Homo sapiens: one gene and its partner. The protein of the gene in region 1 interacts with the protein of each later gene in a pairwise test. Each region holds a gene or a part of one and is shown in the gene's direction. Other genes may lie near its edges.

What was found. The genes of interacting proteins can lie anywhere in the genome.
Region 2: the proteins of CRX (region 1) and CIMIP4 interact in binary tests that used the Homo sapiens proteins (3 or more experiments, as listed by UniProt).

Annotation. Positions count from the first base shown.
Region 1 is NC_000019.10:47,817,035-47,824,961, forward strand, and holds the start of CRX (cone-rod homeobox protein), read left to right. Parts: upstream 1-4,902; 5' UTR 4,903-4,976; intron 4,977-7,927. Other genes in the region: TPRX1 (tetra-peptide repeat homeobox protein 1), read right to left, coding at 1,434-1,504, 1,938-2,017. UniProt on the Homo sapiens protein: Transcription factor that binds and transactivates the sequence 5'-TAATC[CA]-3' which is found upstream of several photoreceptor-specific genes, including the opsin genes.
Region 2 is NC_000022.11:36,990,829-36,997,853, reverse strand, and holds the end of CIMIP4 (ciliary microtubule inner protein 4), read left to right. Parts: intron 1-6,262; coding exon 6,263-6,373; intron 6,374-6,577; coding exon 6,578-6,675; 3' UTR 6,676-6,729; downstream 6,730-7,025.

The DNA of each region.
Region 1 (7,927 bases):
GGAGGCCCAAGGCTAGTTCTCAGAGCTGTGGAGTTCGGCACCCACTGGGTCCCAGGTTCCCACCTGAGCAGTTGTTCTCACAGGTAAGGCCTGAATGCTCACAGCCACCTTGTGGTGCAGACACACAGATAACTCCATTCTACAGGCAGGGAGACTGAGCCTGGGAAGGAGGGAGGTGCCCACAGGTCCCAGCTTCTCACACACTGCATGAACCACAGACCTTGGGAACAAGATCTCAGGGAACAATAACTCCATGGAAACTTCCTCCCAGGCGGCTTCTGGTATCATCCCCACTTTACAGAGGAGGAAACTGAGGCTGAGAGAAGTGTAGTCTCCAGTTCTGTCTCCCACGTCAGCGGCAGAGCCAGAGCTGGGCCAGCACCTGCCCCGGAGCCTGTGCCCTCCTGATCACCAGGTGATATGGCCTCTTAGGATGCTCGCCACAGCCCCACGGAGCTCAGAGGTCCCTTTCTCAGAGGAGGAAACTGAGGCTGAGAGAGGTTTCGTCAATTTCCGAGGTCACACAGGTGATGAGTGGAAGAACCAGGGGTAGAATTTAAATCTCTTTGGCCCCCGAGCCCCGCTCTTCACCCCCGAGTCTGCCTGGGATTCCTAGAAGATGGATGAGGTCAGCTTCCTCCCCTGCTCCCATGGGATTCCCAGGGCTCATTGTGACAGCTTGTCACTGTATCCACTTTGCAGAGGAGGAAACTGAGGCCCAGGAGCCCATATGAAGGGCCCAAGGCCACGCAGTGAGAAAACAACAGGATTTAAACCCAAACTCATGTGGCTCCATGCCAGCTCTTGGCAAGACCCTCCCGACTCAGCCATGTTCAGGGCCCTCCCTTGTTGGCCCTGCCAGCCTCTCTCTGCCGCATCCGTAGGCTCCTCTGTCCAGTGAGGACAAGGAGCTGAGTGGATGCACCCACTACCAGGCATGGGACCTGGTAGAAGCAGGGATTCATGGCACAGTTAGAGCCTGAATGAATTAACTCAGGAACAATATGATCCCTGAAGCATCCAGAGATTCAAACACTAGTGGGCAGCCCCACAGTCTGACCTCACAGTGCTGCAATCACAGACCCTTGGTCCTTTTGGGAAAACATCACACCACTTCTCTGTGCCAGTGTCTCTACCTGGTTCTGCCCCACCATCCATCCATCCATCCATCCATCACCCATCCATCCATCCATCCATCCACCCATCCATCACCCATCCATCCATCCATCCATCCATCCATCCATCACCCATCCATCCATCCATCCACCCATCCATCACCCATCCATCCATCCATCCATCCATCCATCATCCATCCATCCATCCATCCATCCATCATCCATCACCCATCCATCCCTCCATCCATCCATCCATCCATCCATCCCTCCGTCCATCCATCCATCCATTTCTTTCACATTTATTGAACACACACTTACTGCTGTGTGTCTGGGACAGTCCTAGGTACTGGGAATACAGCTGAGAACAAGACAGACAGGGCCCCATCCTCCTGACAAGGGCAGACAAGAAACAAGATGTCAGTAAGAGTTTTGCAAAAGATTAAATAGGATGAATGTGTTAGGGAGCTAAGGGGGTGCAGGTATGAGGAGCACCCCCATCCTGCAGTAGAGCCTGGAGTGAAACTCATCAACAACCTGATCCAAGGATCCTCCAGTATTCCATACATCTTCAGACTGTCCCCAGAATTTAACCCCACTTTTTTTGTTTATTATACTTTAAGTTCTAGGGTACATGTGCACAACGTGCAGGTTTGTTACATATGGATACATGTGCCATGTTGGTTTGCTGCACCCATTAACTCATCATTTACATTAGGTATTTCTCCTAATGCTATTCCTCCCCCTGCCCCCCACCCCACAACAGGCCCCTGTGTGTGATGTTCCCCACCCTGTGTCCAAGTGTTCTCATTGTTCAATTCTCACCTATGAGCGAGAGCATGCGGTGTTTGGTTTTCTGTCCTTGTGATAGTTTGCTCAGAATGATGGTTTCCAGCTTCATCCATGTCCCTGCATAGGACATGAACTCATCCTTTTTTATGGCTGCATAGTATTCCATGGTGTATATGTGCCACATTTTCTTAATCCTTAACCCCACTTTTTCCAGCTGCAATCATGTGCATTACAATAAGTCTCAAAGTCAGGTAGCGTAAGTTCTCCAACTCGTTTTATTTTTCCAAGACTGCTTTGATTATTCTAGATCATTTATATTCCATAGCAACTTCAGAATCAGTTTGACAATCAATTTCTACAGAAAAATCCTGATGAGATTCTGATTGGGATTGCAGTAAATCTAAAGATTAGTTTGAGAAGAATTGACCTCTTAATAACATTGAGTCTTCTAAACCATGAACATGGTATAGTTCACTATTGACTTGAGTCTCCTTTAATTTCTTCCAGCAGTGCTTTATATTGTTTCAGTAGGATAATGATCTGATAGAAGAGATGACAGGACTTATGGATGGATTGGATGTAAGTGGTGAGGAGAAAGGGGTTAGGGGCCAGGCTGAGTGCCCAGATTTCTGCCTGAGCCACTGGGTGGAGATGAGAAGGAAAGCAAGTTGCCTCAGAAGACCTAGCTCAGAGAAGAAGTGCTTGGATTTGATTTCAGCTTACTTGATCCCAGGGCCATGTGCAGGACCAGCTGAAACCCACCTCTCTGTACCCCCACCCCTGGAAGGACTCTGGATCCAGGAGCCAACCAGTACCCAGATTCCCCAGGGCAGGTGATTTAAGAGTTGCTGACACCTTCTCTGTCCCGCTGGAAGTTATTTTCTCCTCCCTCTCCCTGTACAGCTGACCTTCCTTCCCTGCTGCAGGGCCAGGGGGTCTGTTCCAGGACTGGATTCTCCCATCAGGAGCCTCTGGACTGGTCGCCGAGGGTCAGACGGCCCCTCCCTCTCTTGCTGTCATCCCTGGCTCTTCAAGCTAATGAGACCTGTCCTGATTCCTCAGCCAGGCCTGTAGCCTTAATCTCTCCTAGCAGGGGGTTTGGGGGAGGGAGGAGGAGAAAGAAAGGGCCCCTTATGGCTGAGACACAATGACCCAGCCACAAGGAGGGATTACCGGGCGTGTGTGTGTGTGTGTGTGTGTGTGCTTGCGTGCGTGTTTGGGTGCACGGGGAAGTGAAACAGACCCGTGTGGGACCCAGGAGCTCAGGGACATATTAATATCTAGAGAGACAGACGAGAGGAGAGAGACACAAAGAGGGCCAGAGACCAGGAAAATCAGAAATACAGAGCAACAGAGGTACCAAGACAGGGAGAAGGACAGAAATGAAAGGAAATCCTCCCAGCTACTCGGGAGGCTGAGGCAGGAGAATTGCTTGAACCGGGGAGGTGGAGGTTGCAGTGAGCCGAGATGGTGCCACTGCACTCCAGCCTGGGTGACAGAGCAAGACTCTGTCTCCAAACAAAAACAAAACAAAACAGAAATGAAGGGCAATCCAGGGAGAGGGGAAGCAAGAATCAGAGAGAGAGAGAGAGAGAGAGAGAGACAGGGAAAAAGAGAAGGAGGAACAGAGATTGGAGCTGCAGAGGATAAGCGAGGACAGAGGGACAGAGATGAGGCTGGAGTTACAGGGACAGGTGGACAGGCAGAAAGACAGCAAAGGGAGGGACAGACAGACAGGAACAGAAGGACATGGAGGCTGAGGGAGAGGGGAGAAAGAGCAAGATAGACAGGGAGACACAGAGAAAAAGAATAAGAGAGACCAAGGGGATAATGCAGGTTTATCAACAGAGACAGGGACGGAGAGGAGCAGATGGAGAATGAAAGAGTGGTATTCAGGAAAGTAGGCAGAAATGCCACAGCCTAAGGCCCACAGGAAAAGAAACTGAGGTACAGAGAAGCCAGACAAAGACCAATGGTGTGTAGAGAGATGGTGAGTGCTGGGTTTGTTGGCTCACGCCTGCAATCCCAGCACTTTGGGAGGCCGAGGTGGGAGGATTGCTTGAGGCCAGGAGTTTGAAGCCAGCCTGGGCAACATAGAGCGACTCCATCTCTACGAAAATAAAAAAATTAGCTGGGCATCGTGGTATGTGCCTGTAAAGTCTCAGCTACTGGGGAGGCTGAGGAGGGAGGATCCCTTGAGCACAGGAGGTCAAGGCTGCAGTGAGCTGTGATCATGCCACTGCACTCCAGCCTGGGCGACAGAGTGAGACCCTGTCTCAACCAAAAAAAAAAAAAAGGAAAAAAAAAAGAAAAAAATCCCAAACCCCAAACTCCACCAAAAACAGAAAAACAAAACACCCTTTCTAATAAGTCTGCCTATTTTCAGTGCTGGAAGCAGCCCCTGCCACCTCCGCCCCCAAAAAGAGGAGAATATCATGTCTGACAACACAGAGACAGAGAGGCCACAGACAAGACTTGACCAAGTCAAAGAGAGAGAAACAGGGGAAACTGAGGCAGAAACCGAGACCAATGAGGCACTACAGAGATAAACTAGCTGTCGGACAGACTGTTGTGGAGAGAAAGGGGGACCCAGGAGAGGGATCCCGAAAGCTCCGTGCCTCTCTTTTTTCAGACGATCTCTCAGGACCATCTGACAGTGCTCTCCTTCCTCTTTGATGCCTCTCTCTTGGGATACTAGCTGAAGCTGGAGAGACACCAGTTAGACCTAAGGAAGGACTTCCCTGAGGAGTAGGGGCTTATGGTCACCGGCAGGAGCTGGGGCCTCCCTTCCCCATCAGCCCTAATTGCCAAGATGTCATGGGGGGAAGAGGAGGGGATTAAGCAGACGGGTGCCCCTCCCCCTCCCAGCCAATGTCACCTCCTGGTGCCCAGTCGAGTCCCCCACCTTGGCCGGGATTACCCTCCGAGTTCCAGGCCATGACAAATGACATCACTCCCGGCCCAGGCTTAAAATCTCCCCATGTGAGGGGATGTGTTTCCTTCAGCCTCTGCTGTCTGGCCGCTCTGTCTAGGTCCTGGGCCACGGGAGAGCCCCGTCCCTCCTTTCTGAAGGTGAGCGTCTGCAGGAGAGGCGGAGGGGACCGAGGAGGGGAGAAAAAAGAGAGGGGAGAAGTTGGGTTTATCTTATTCGTGGCTGTGTTTGCCGTGCTCTGCAGGTGATGTTTGCTGAATAGTCACACACAAAACAGAGGTGCCGTCCTGGCATTTGTGGAAACGGGGCTAGGCTGTGATTGCAGCAGGAGGGAGTAAGGTTAGACAGCAGGGACTGGCTGATGGCACTCGGGGCATTGGGAGGATTCAGGGTGGCTTGTGGGCAAGGGGGTCCCCTCAAGCCCTGACGGCATCCGGGGTTGGGGGCTTCTCACCGTGGTTCTAAGGCAACTCCTCAGCATACCGCTCTGTTGGATGTTCTTTAAAACTCTTAGCACTGCCTGAAATTTTCATTTGCGCGATGATCCACAAATGGCCTGTCTCCCTCCCTTGTTGAGCACTGATTTTTCCCCAGTGCCCAGCGTGTGGTTGGGATTTGCCTAAATATGTGTTGCATAGATGGATGGATGAATGACAGACAAGGGACGGAACAGACATATACGCAGAGAGCCCAGGTCTGTGGCTGCAACAGGAAGAACTCCGGGTGGACTTGGGCCTGCCCGAGAGAGCCAGGAATGTGATGACTGGGGATCACTGTGCTGGTGAATTGATCACTTAGGGCCTCAATGCACCCAGAGGCTCTGGCTTTCAGCCCAGGCTCTACTTCGGGACTGGGGAATCCTCACGCCCCCGCCCTCTTAGCTTCCAGCACAGTCACTCTCTCTGATCTTCTTTCTGCAAAGTTTTTTTTTGTTTGTTTTTGAGATGGAGTCTTGCTCTGTTGCCCAAGCTGGAGTGCAGTGCCACGATCTCCACTCACTGCAACCTCTACCTCCTAGGTCCAAGGAGTCCATCCACCTCAGCCTCTTGAGTAGCTGGAATTACAGGCGCGTGCCCCCATGCCCAGCTATTTTTTGTATTTTTAGTAGAGATGGGGGGTCTCTCCATGTTGTCCAGGCTGGTCTCGAACTCCTGACCTCAAGTGATCAGCCCGCCTGAGCCTCCCAAAGTGCTGGGATTATGGGTATGAGCCTCTGCGCCCAGCCGGTCTCCTGCAAAACTCTTGATTGACACCTTGTTTCCCGTCTGCCCCTGTCAGGAGGGCTGAGGCCTTGTCTGTCTTGCTCTCGGCTGTATTCCCAGTGCTTGGGTCAGTCCTAGACACACAGTGAGTGCTCAGTGAATATGCAGGGAATGAATGAATGAATGAAGGGCAGAAGGGTAGAAGCAGGTAGACAGACTGCCACAGAGAGGAGGTGTGATGCGGTTTTCCCAAAAGGAACGAGCGAGGGCTGTGATTGCCACAGAGTGAGGTCCGACTTCAGGGCTGCCCACTGTGTGTGAATTTCTGGATGCTTCAGGGATCACATTGTTGATCACGGAGTTGATTTGCTCAGGCTCTAACTGTGCCGTGGATCCCAGCTTCCCCCAGGTCTCATGGCCGGCAGTGGGTGCATCCACCCAGCTCCTTGTCCCCGCTGGACAGAGGAGCCAACAGAGGCTGCAGAGAGAGGCTGGAGTGGCTGACAAGGGAGGGCCCTGAATGTGGCTGAGCTGGGAGGGTCTTGCCAAGGGCTGGCATGAAGCCACATGAGTCTGGTTTTTTTTTTTTTTTTTTGAGACGGAGTCTCACTCTGTGGCCCAGGCTGGAGTGCAGTGGCATGACCTCAGCTCAGTGCAACCTCCACCTCCCAGGTTCAAGCGATTCTCCTGCCTCAGCCTCTCAAGTATCTGGGATTACAGGCGTGCACCACCATGCCTGGCTTATTTTTGTATTTTTAGTAGAGATGGGGTTTCACCTTGTTAGCCAGGCTGGTCTCAAACTCCTGACCTCAGGTGATCCACCTGCCTCGGCCTCCCAAAGTGCTGGGATTACAGGCGTGAGCCACCACACCCGGCCGAGTCTGCGTTTAAATCTTGTTCTTTTCTCACTGTGTGGCCTTGGACCCCTCATGTGGGCTCTCTGGGCCTTGGTTGCCTCCTCTGCAAAGTGGGGACAATGATAAGCTGTCACCATGATCCAGCCAGATGAGCCATATTGCAGGCCTGGCCTGCAGTGGGAGCAGGGCAGGAGACCAGCCTCATTCTGTTTCTAGGGTCCCTAGGTAGACTTGGGGGTGAAGAGCGGGGCTCGGGGGCCAAAGAGATTTAAATTTTACCCCTGGTTCTTCCACTCATCACCTGTGTGACCTCGGGAATTGACGAAACCTCTTTCAGCCTCAGTTTCCTCCTCTGAGAAAGGGACCTCTGAGCTCCGTGGGGCTGTGGGGAGCATCCTAAGAGGCCATATCGCCGGGTGATCAGGAGGGCACCGGCTCCGGGGCAGGTGCTGGCCCAGCTCTGGCTCTGCCGCTGACGTGCGAGACAGAACTGGAGACTACACTTCTCTCAGCCTCAGTTTCCTTCTCTGTAAAGTGGGGATGATACCAGAAGCCGCCTGGGAGGAAGTTTCCATGGAGTTACTGTTGCCTGAGATCTTGTTCCCAAGGTCCATGGTGCATGCAGTGTGTGAGAAGCTGGGGCCCCCTGGAGGTCCTTAAGGTCATCAGCCACCTGAACTGTGGGCACCTCCCTCCCTCCCAGGCTCAGTCTCCCCCGCTGTAGAATGGAGTTATCTGCATGTCTGCCCCACCAGGTGGCTGTGAGCATTCAGACCTCACCTGTGGGAACAACTGCTCAGCTGGGAACCTGGGACCCAGTGAGTGCCGAACCCCACAGCTCTGAGAATCAGCCTGGGGCCTCCCAGGTTGATCCCCAGGGCAGAGACACTGATATTCTTTGTTCCACCCCTTGAAATCATAAAACATCAGTGTCTGGAAATTGTTGTCATTGTGAGATCTTGTATATAAAGCCTGGGCCAAGTGTCTGCCGAGTGATGAATTCCTGGACATTCTTTTTTTTTTTTCCTCCCC
Region 2 (7,025 bases), on another chromosome or scaffold:
TTGAGGTTGGTGAGGCTGGTATGGCTGCACAGGAGTGAGGCAGAAGACATCAGAGGAAACAGGCTGGGTCGTGAAGCCTGCTGGAAGGTCTTTACTCGGAGTGAGATGAGAAACCAAGCCGGGATTTTAAGCAGGAGAATGGCCCTGTTTGGCTCAGGTTAAGGGCTCACTCCAGTTGCTATGGGGAGAATGGACATAGGGAGATGGGGCAGAAACAGGGAAACTGGTAGGAGGCAGCTGCAAAACTCCAGATGGGACAGATGATGGTGGCTTGGTGTTGGAAGCTGGGCTAGTGCACCTGCGCTATTTTGGAAGGCACCATTGTGCAATATAGCAGCTCAGGGAGGTAATGGTGAAGGTGGCCTGATGTAGTAGGATTCTGGATATTTGTATAAGGCAGAGAGAAAAGAATATGCTAATGAATAGATTTTGGGGTGAGAGAGGAATTAACGTTGACTTCAACGTTTTGACCTGAACAACTGGAAGGATGAGATGGCTATTTACTGAATTAGAGAAGCTGCCAGGGGGAGCAGGTTGAGGGACTCCTATCCTATGCTAAATCGTAGATCATCTTTTACACAGTCTTCTAAAATTTTTAGTTTTGCTTTTCACATTTAACTCTTTAATCCACCTGGGGTTGATTTTTGTTTTTAGTATGAAGTAGGGATTCATTTTCAAAAACTGTAGATGGCTTTTGTGAGTTTTAGCCATTTAAGAAAGTAGTAAAACTGAGGCTTGAGGAAACTTTAGGCAGCTTGCCCAGCTGTATAAAGAGTGAGATGACGAGCTCAGGCATTCCTTGGGCATCTGTGTGCCCAGCCCTCAAAATAATGGAACAACAACACCAGAAATCTTTCCCCAGTAGGGATTCATTTTCAATTCCTTCTTTATGTGGGTTACTGACTGCCTCAGTACCTTTTATTGAATAGGCTCATCTTTCCTCCCGGTGACCTGCAGTGGTACTTCTGTTATCCATCAGGTTTTGACACATGCATAGATCAGTTTCAGGCTCTATTCTGTCCATTGGTCTAATATTACATTTTTAATCACCAAAGTATTATAAGTAGCCTGATATCTGGTCAGGCAATACTCCCACTACCACCCCTCCACCACCATCACCAGTTAATGTCTTGGGTTTCTAGGCCCTTTACTCTCCCATACAAATGTTATTAATAAACAGAAATTTCCATGAAAAACCCTGTTGGGATTTTGATTGGAAATACATTGAATCTACAGCTCAATTTAAGGGCTGTTGTCAGCTTTATAATGAATTTTCTAATATATGAATATGGTATATACCTCCATTAATTTAAGTCTTCCTTCGATATCTCTCAGTAACATTTTGTGATTTTTTTTTTTCTATAAACATCATGCAGGTTTTTTTGTTAGACTTACTCAGGAGAATCTCTTTTTTTGCTGCTGTTGAAAATGATATCTTTTTAAAATTATATTTTCTAACTTTGCTGCTGATACCGTATACACAAATGCAATTTTTGTTTTTGTATATTAATCTCGTATCCAGAAGCTTTATGCAGCTCACCAATTAATTCCAGTAATTAGTTATTGATTCTTTAGGAGTGCTTTTGAATAGTAATAATGGCTACATTTATGCATAGTATTTAACATATGCCAGGTACTGCTCTGAGTACTTTATATATATATTTTATTCTGCACATGAATCCCATGTGGTAAATGCTACAATTCCCATTTTTTTTTCCAGATAAAAAATAATTGAGTCATGGAAAAGTTAAATAACTTAATTAAGGCCACACAGATAGGGACGGTCAGAATTGGGATTTAAACCCTGCCAGTCAGAGGCTAGAGTTTAAATTCCTAAACACTAGGCTTTTCTTACCTTTATATCAGCATCTGGCTGACCTCTCTAGGACAATGGTGTCTATAAGCAGGAAAAACAGGCATCCTTATCTCCTTCTTGATTCTAACATTACATCATTAAATATAATATAGTCTGTTTTCATACTGCTGATAAAAACATACCTGAGACTGGGTAATTTATAAAGAAAAAGAGGTTTAATAGACTCACAGTTCCATGTAGCTGGGGAGGCCTCACATCATGGTGGAAGGTGAAAGGCACGTCTTACACGGTGGCCGACAAGAGAGAATGGGAACCAAGTGAAAGAAGTTTCCCCTTATAAAGCCATCAGATCTCATGAAATTTATTCACTACCATGGAAACAGCATGGGGGAAAATGGAGCTGGCTCTGGGTCTTAGTCTGGCTTTGGGTGTCCTGAGAGTTTGGTGAACTTCATGTGGGGAGAGTATTGGCATGGCCGTGAGTCCTGGGTGTATAGGCTTCCCACAGACAGGGCTGCGGGGGAACCATGTGGGATGGCCTGCAGGAATATGGCCACGGTGAGTGGCCCTTTGTGTATTTTCTGCCTCCCAACTCACCGTGGCTCCAGCTTCAGAAGGAGGTCAGAGCAGAACACCCCTGTGGGCTAACATGAAGGTCCTCATCTGCTCCATGCAGCAGGGCTGGGAGGGGAGAGTAGAGGGTCAGCCCATGGTAAGGACAAGCCACATACAAATCAAAACCTTGGCTGGGCTCACCTGGACATTGTGTCTTTGAGTCACAGAGCAGGCAGAATGGTAGCTTACGTCCTGTCCTTTTCCCTCTGTGTCCAGGTATCCAGGGATCCCTGAACCAGCTTACCAAGGATTTTCTTTTTTTCACTTCTTTCCATTGTTGGAATTCTGATTTCCTCTATTTGGTGTCTTCCTCTTTCTTGGTTTGCTCTCTTGTCTTTGGGGTGGATTCCATCTCCCAGCTTGATGTGACTGTCATTGGAGAACACAGCCCTGTAATGATTTCAATCCTTTGAAATTGTTCAGATTTGCTTTAGAGCCCAGTAGATGGTGATTTTTGTAGATGATCTGTGTGTGCTTAAGAATAATCTCTCCAGGCCGGGCGCAGTGGCTCACGCCTGTAATCCCAGCACTTTGGGAGGCCGAGGCGGGTGGATCATGAGGTCAGGAGATCGAGACCATCCTGGCTAACAAGGTGAAACCCCGTCTCTACTAAAAATACAAAAAATTAGCCGGGCGCGGTGGCGGGCGCCTGTAGTCCCAGCTACTCGGGAGGCTGAGGCAGGAGAATGGCGTGAACCCGGGAAGCGGAGCTTGCAGTGAGCCGAGATTGCGCCACTGCACACCAGCCTGGTGACAGAGCAAGACTCCATCTCAAAAAAAAAAAAAAAAAAATCTCAGGAGGCGGAGCCAGGCAGATCACAAGGTCAAGAGATCGAGATCATCCTGGCCAATATGGTGAAACCCTATATCTACTAAAAATACAAAAATTAGCTGGCATGATGGCGCATGTCTCTACTAAAAATACAAAAATTAGCTAGGCGTGATGGCGCACGCCTGTAATGGCTTCTCAGGAGGCTGAGGCAGAAGAATCGCTTGAACCCGGGAGGCGGAGGTAGGCGGAGGTTATAGTGAGCGGAGATCGCGCCACTGCACTCCAGCCTGGTGACAGAGCAAGACTCCCTCTCAAAATAATGATAATAATAATAATAATAACAATCTCTTGGGTAAGGGATTCTGCATTTGTCTATAGAACAGGCTTGTTAATAATTTCTGCACAAATCTTCTAATCCTTATTAATATGCTTTGCTTGATCTATTAGTTACTAAAATATGTGTCTTTAAATCTCCCTCTATAATAGCAGCTTTGTCCATTTGTCCTGTGGTTCTGTCAATTTTGCCTTATCTATTTTGAGATTATTTCAATGTAGCAAGTTCAGAATCATTACATTACCTTAATGAATTGCAATTGTTTTTGTTTTTCATCGTGCCGTTGCCCTACAGTCTATTTCACCTGATATAGTTAGACCAGACTGCTTTTGGTTAGTGTTTGCCTGGGTATATCTTTTTCTGTTCTTCCATGTTTATCCTCTCTTTGTGTCCTTTTAAATATGCCTTCAATGATACATACCTGGAAAACATTTTCTGTAGTGTCATCATCTGGTTTTTAACGAATGGGTTTAATTCGTTCATATTGATTCTCGTTACTGATATAGACTATTTGGGTTTATTTCCATGATCTTATTTTTCGTTTTCTATTTGTGCTGCTTTTTCTTTTCTTTTCTTTTCTTTTTTTTTGAGATGGAGTCTCACTCTGTTGCCCAGGCTGGAGTGCAGTGGCGCGCTCTCAGCTCACTGCAAGCTCCGCCTCCTGGGTTCACGCCATTCTCCTGCCTCAGCCTCCCAAGTAGCTGAGACTACAGGCGCCTGCCACAACGCCCGGCTAATTTTTTTTTTTGTATTTTTAGTAGAGACGGGGTTTCACCGTGTTAGCCAGGATGGTGTGCTGCTTTTTCTTTGTGGCTTCTTTTTCTCTCTCTTTTTGGATTTACATCAGCTTTCTTATTTTTCTCAATCTGATATTTGTTCTTTTCTACTCCTCTTATTCTTTGAGTGGTTACCTTTGACATTTTTATATGCGTAATTAACAAATTATAAAGTTAATCTAGGCATTTGTGTTTTCCTGAACACTAAGGGCCTTAGAAGGCTTTAACTTTGGCTGGGCGCCGTGGCTCACACCTGTAACCCCAGCACTTTGGGAGGCCGAGATGGGCGGATCACAAGGTCAAGAGATCCAGACCATCCTGGCTAACATGGTGAAACCCCGTCTCTACTAAAAATACAAAAATTAGCTGGGTGTGGTGGCGCATGCCTGTAATCCCAGCTACTCAGGAGGCTGAGGCAGGAGAGTAGATTGAACCTGGGAGATGGAGGTTGCAGTGAGCCAAGATTGAGCCACAGCACTCCAGCCTGGAGACAGAGCGAGACTCCGTCTCAAAAAAAAAAAAAAGAAAAAAAAAACTTTAATTAACTTTAATTACTCTCCCGACCTCCACCTCAGCTTACATGTTATTATTTTATAGAATTTATATATGTATTATATATAGGATTTAGATATATGTATATATAGAATTTATATATATATTCTCGGCCTCCCAAAGTGCTGGGATTACAGGCGTGAGCCACCGCGCCCAGCCCACATCTTTTTATTTCTTTGTATTGCATCCTAATATTAATTTCTTTAGGTATATCTTCCAGTTTACCATTTTCTCTCAGCTTTATTTGATCTGCTATTTTATCTGTTAATTGAATTTCTTTTTAAACTTTTATGATGGCAATTTTCAAGCTTATGGAAAAGAAGAGAACTTAGTTTATAAATAGATGTTGCATATACCACTCAGCCTCAACAATGATTAATACATAGCCGATCTTGTCTCATCTTTTCTCCCACCCATCCACTCCCACCCAAGATTATTTCAAAGCAAGTCCCAGGCATCTTATTGCCATGGAGTTTAATTTTTTTTCAATTATTATGTGTTTCATTTCTGAAATTCCGTTTGCTTCTCTTACTAATCTATCTGCTCTTTCTGGATGGTTTCTTACTCTTTGCTTATATTTTTATTCTCTCTTATGGTTTCAATCATTAAATATAGGTTTTTTGTTTGTTTGTTTGTTTGTTTGAGACAGAGTCTCTCTCTGTTGCCCAGGCTGGACTGCAGTGGCACGATCTCGGCTCACTGCAACCTCCGCCTCCCGGGTTCAAGCAATTCTCCTACCTCAGCCTCCTGAGTAGCTGGGATTACAGGAGCCCGCCACCACGCCCAGCTAATTTTTGTATTTTTAGTAGAGACGGGGTTTCACCATGTTGGTCAGGCTGGTCTCGAACCCCTGACCTCGTGATCCACCCGCCTTGGCCTCCCAAAGTGCTGGGATTACAGGCGTGAGCCACTGCCCCCGGCCTAAATATACTTATTTTGTATTCTGTATCTGATCATTCAAATCTTTGCTAATTTGGGAGATTTTGTCCTTTGGTGTTTCTGCTGACTCTTGATCATTGCAACGTATCTGCTTGTGCATGTTTGAATTTTGAAAACAGAGATAAGTTTTCCTAAGTTACAGGTATTAGTTGCCACTTGCTAGATGTCTTGATGAATGTCCAATAATTTTGTCTTTCCAACCATGCAAAAAAATCTCATTTCTTGGTATAGTTGAAGACACTGAAGCTCAGAGAGGTTAAAAATTTCTCTGAGGCTATACTACCCATAAATAATGGAGTCTGGGTTTGAACCCAAACGACTTTACTTTGAAACCCTTCCCACTCTCCTTCCGTTCCACAATTTACCATCCGTAGAGGAAACTGACACCCAATATAAGCCATGGAGTACCCGACTGCCACTGAATTGGGCACTTGGGGTTTCTTCATGGTATTCTACAGGGGCTGCTGAGGAGACAAAGAGCCTCATGAAGGCTTCTTACACACCAGAGGTCATTGAGAAATCAGTGAGGGACTTAGAACACTGGCATGGCAGGAAGACGGATGATCTGGGTAAGTGAGGAGCTGCGGGTGATGGGAGGCAGGGACTGTCCTCCACCAGCAGGGTGTGTTGGCTCTAAGGGTCAGAGAGAAACCAGAGCAGGAGACAGAGCCGGGGTGGACTTGGAAGAGGTACGAGTCATCCCTGGGGTCTGGGCAACTCCAGAGACTGCCAGATGATCTAATCTGTGCTGGCTCTTCTCCTGCTCGCTGTAGGGCGGTGGCACCAGAAAAATGCTATGAACCTGAACTTGCAGAAAGCACTGGAAGAGAAATATGGAGAAAACAGCAAATCCAAGAGCTCCAAGTACTAGTTTTGACACAGTAGAGGTGTCTTCTACTCAAATAAAGTGCTAACAATAAGGAAAGGCTCAGGTCCGAGTCCTCCTGTGCTTGGTGCCTTTCTTCACACTGGAGTAGAGGCCGATATGTGGTGTTGGAGAGACCAACTGGGGGAAGATAGAAGCCCTGGGGTCCCAAACTATTCCCTAGTCCTCCCTCCTGCACACACATGCACACACACGTACCTTCATCCATTATCCCAGGAAAGGACATGAGAGCTGGGCATGACTCTGTCTCAAGCCCAGGGTGCCTGGCTTCTCCCACATGCCCTATGTGAGGGGGTCCTATAGTGGACACTGCTGGATCTTACCCTACATGCTCT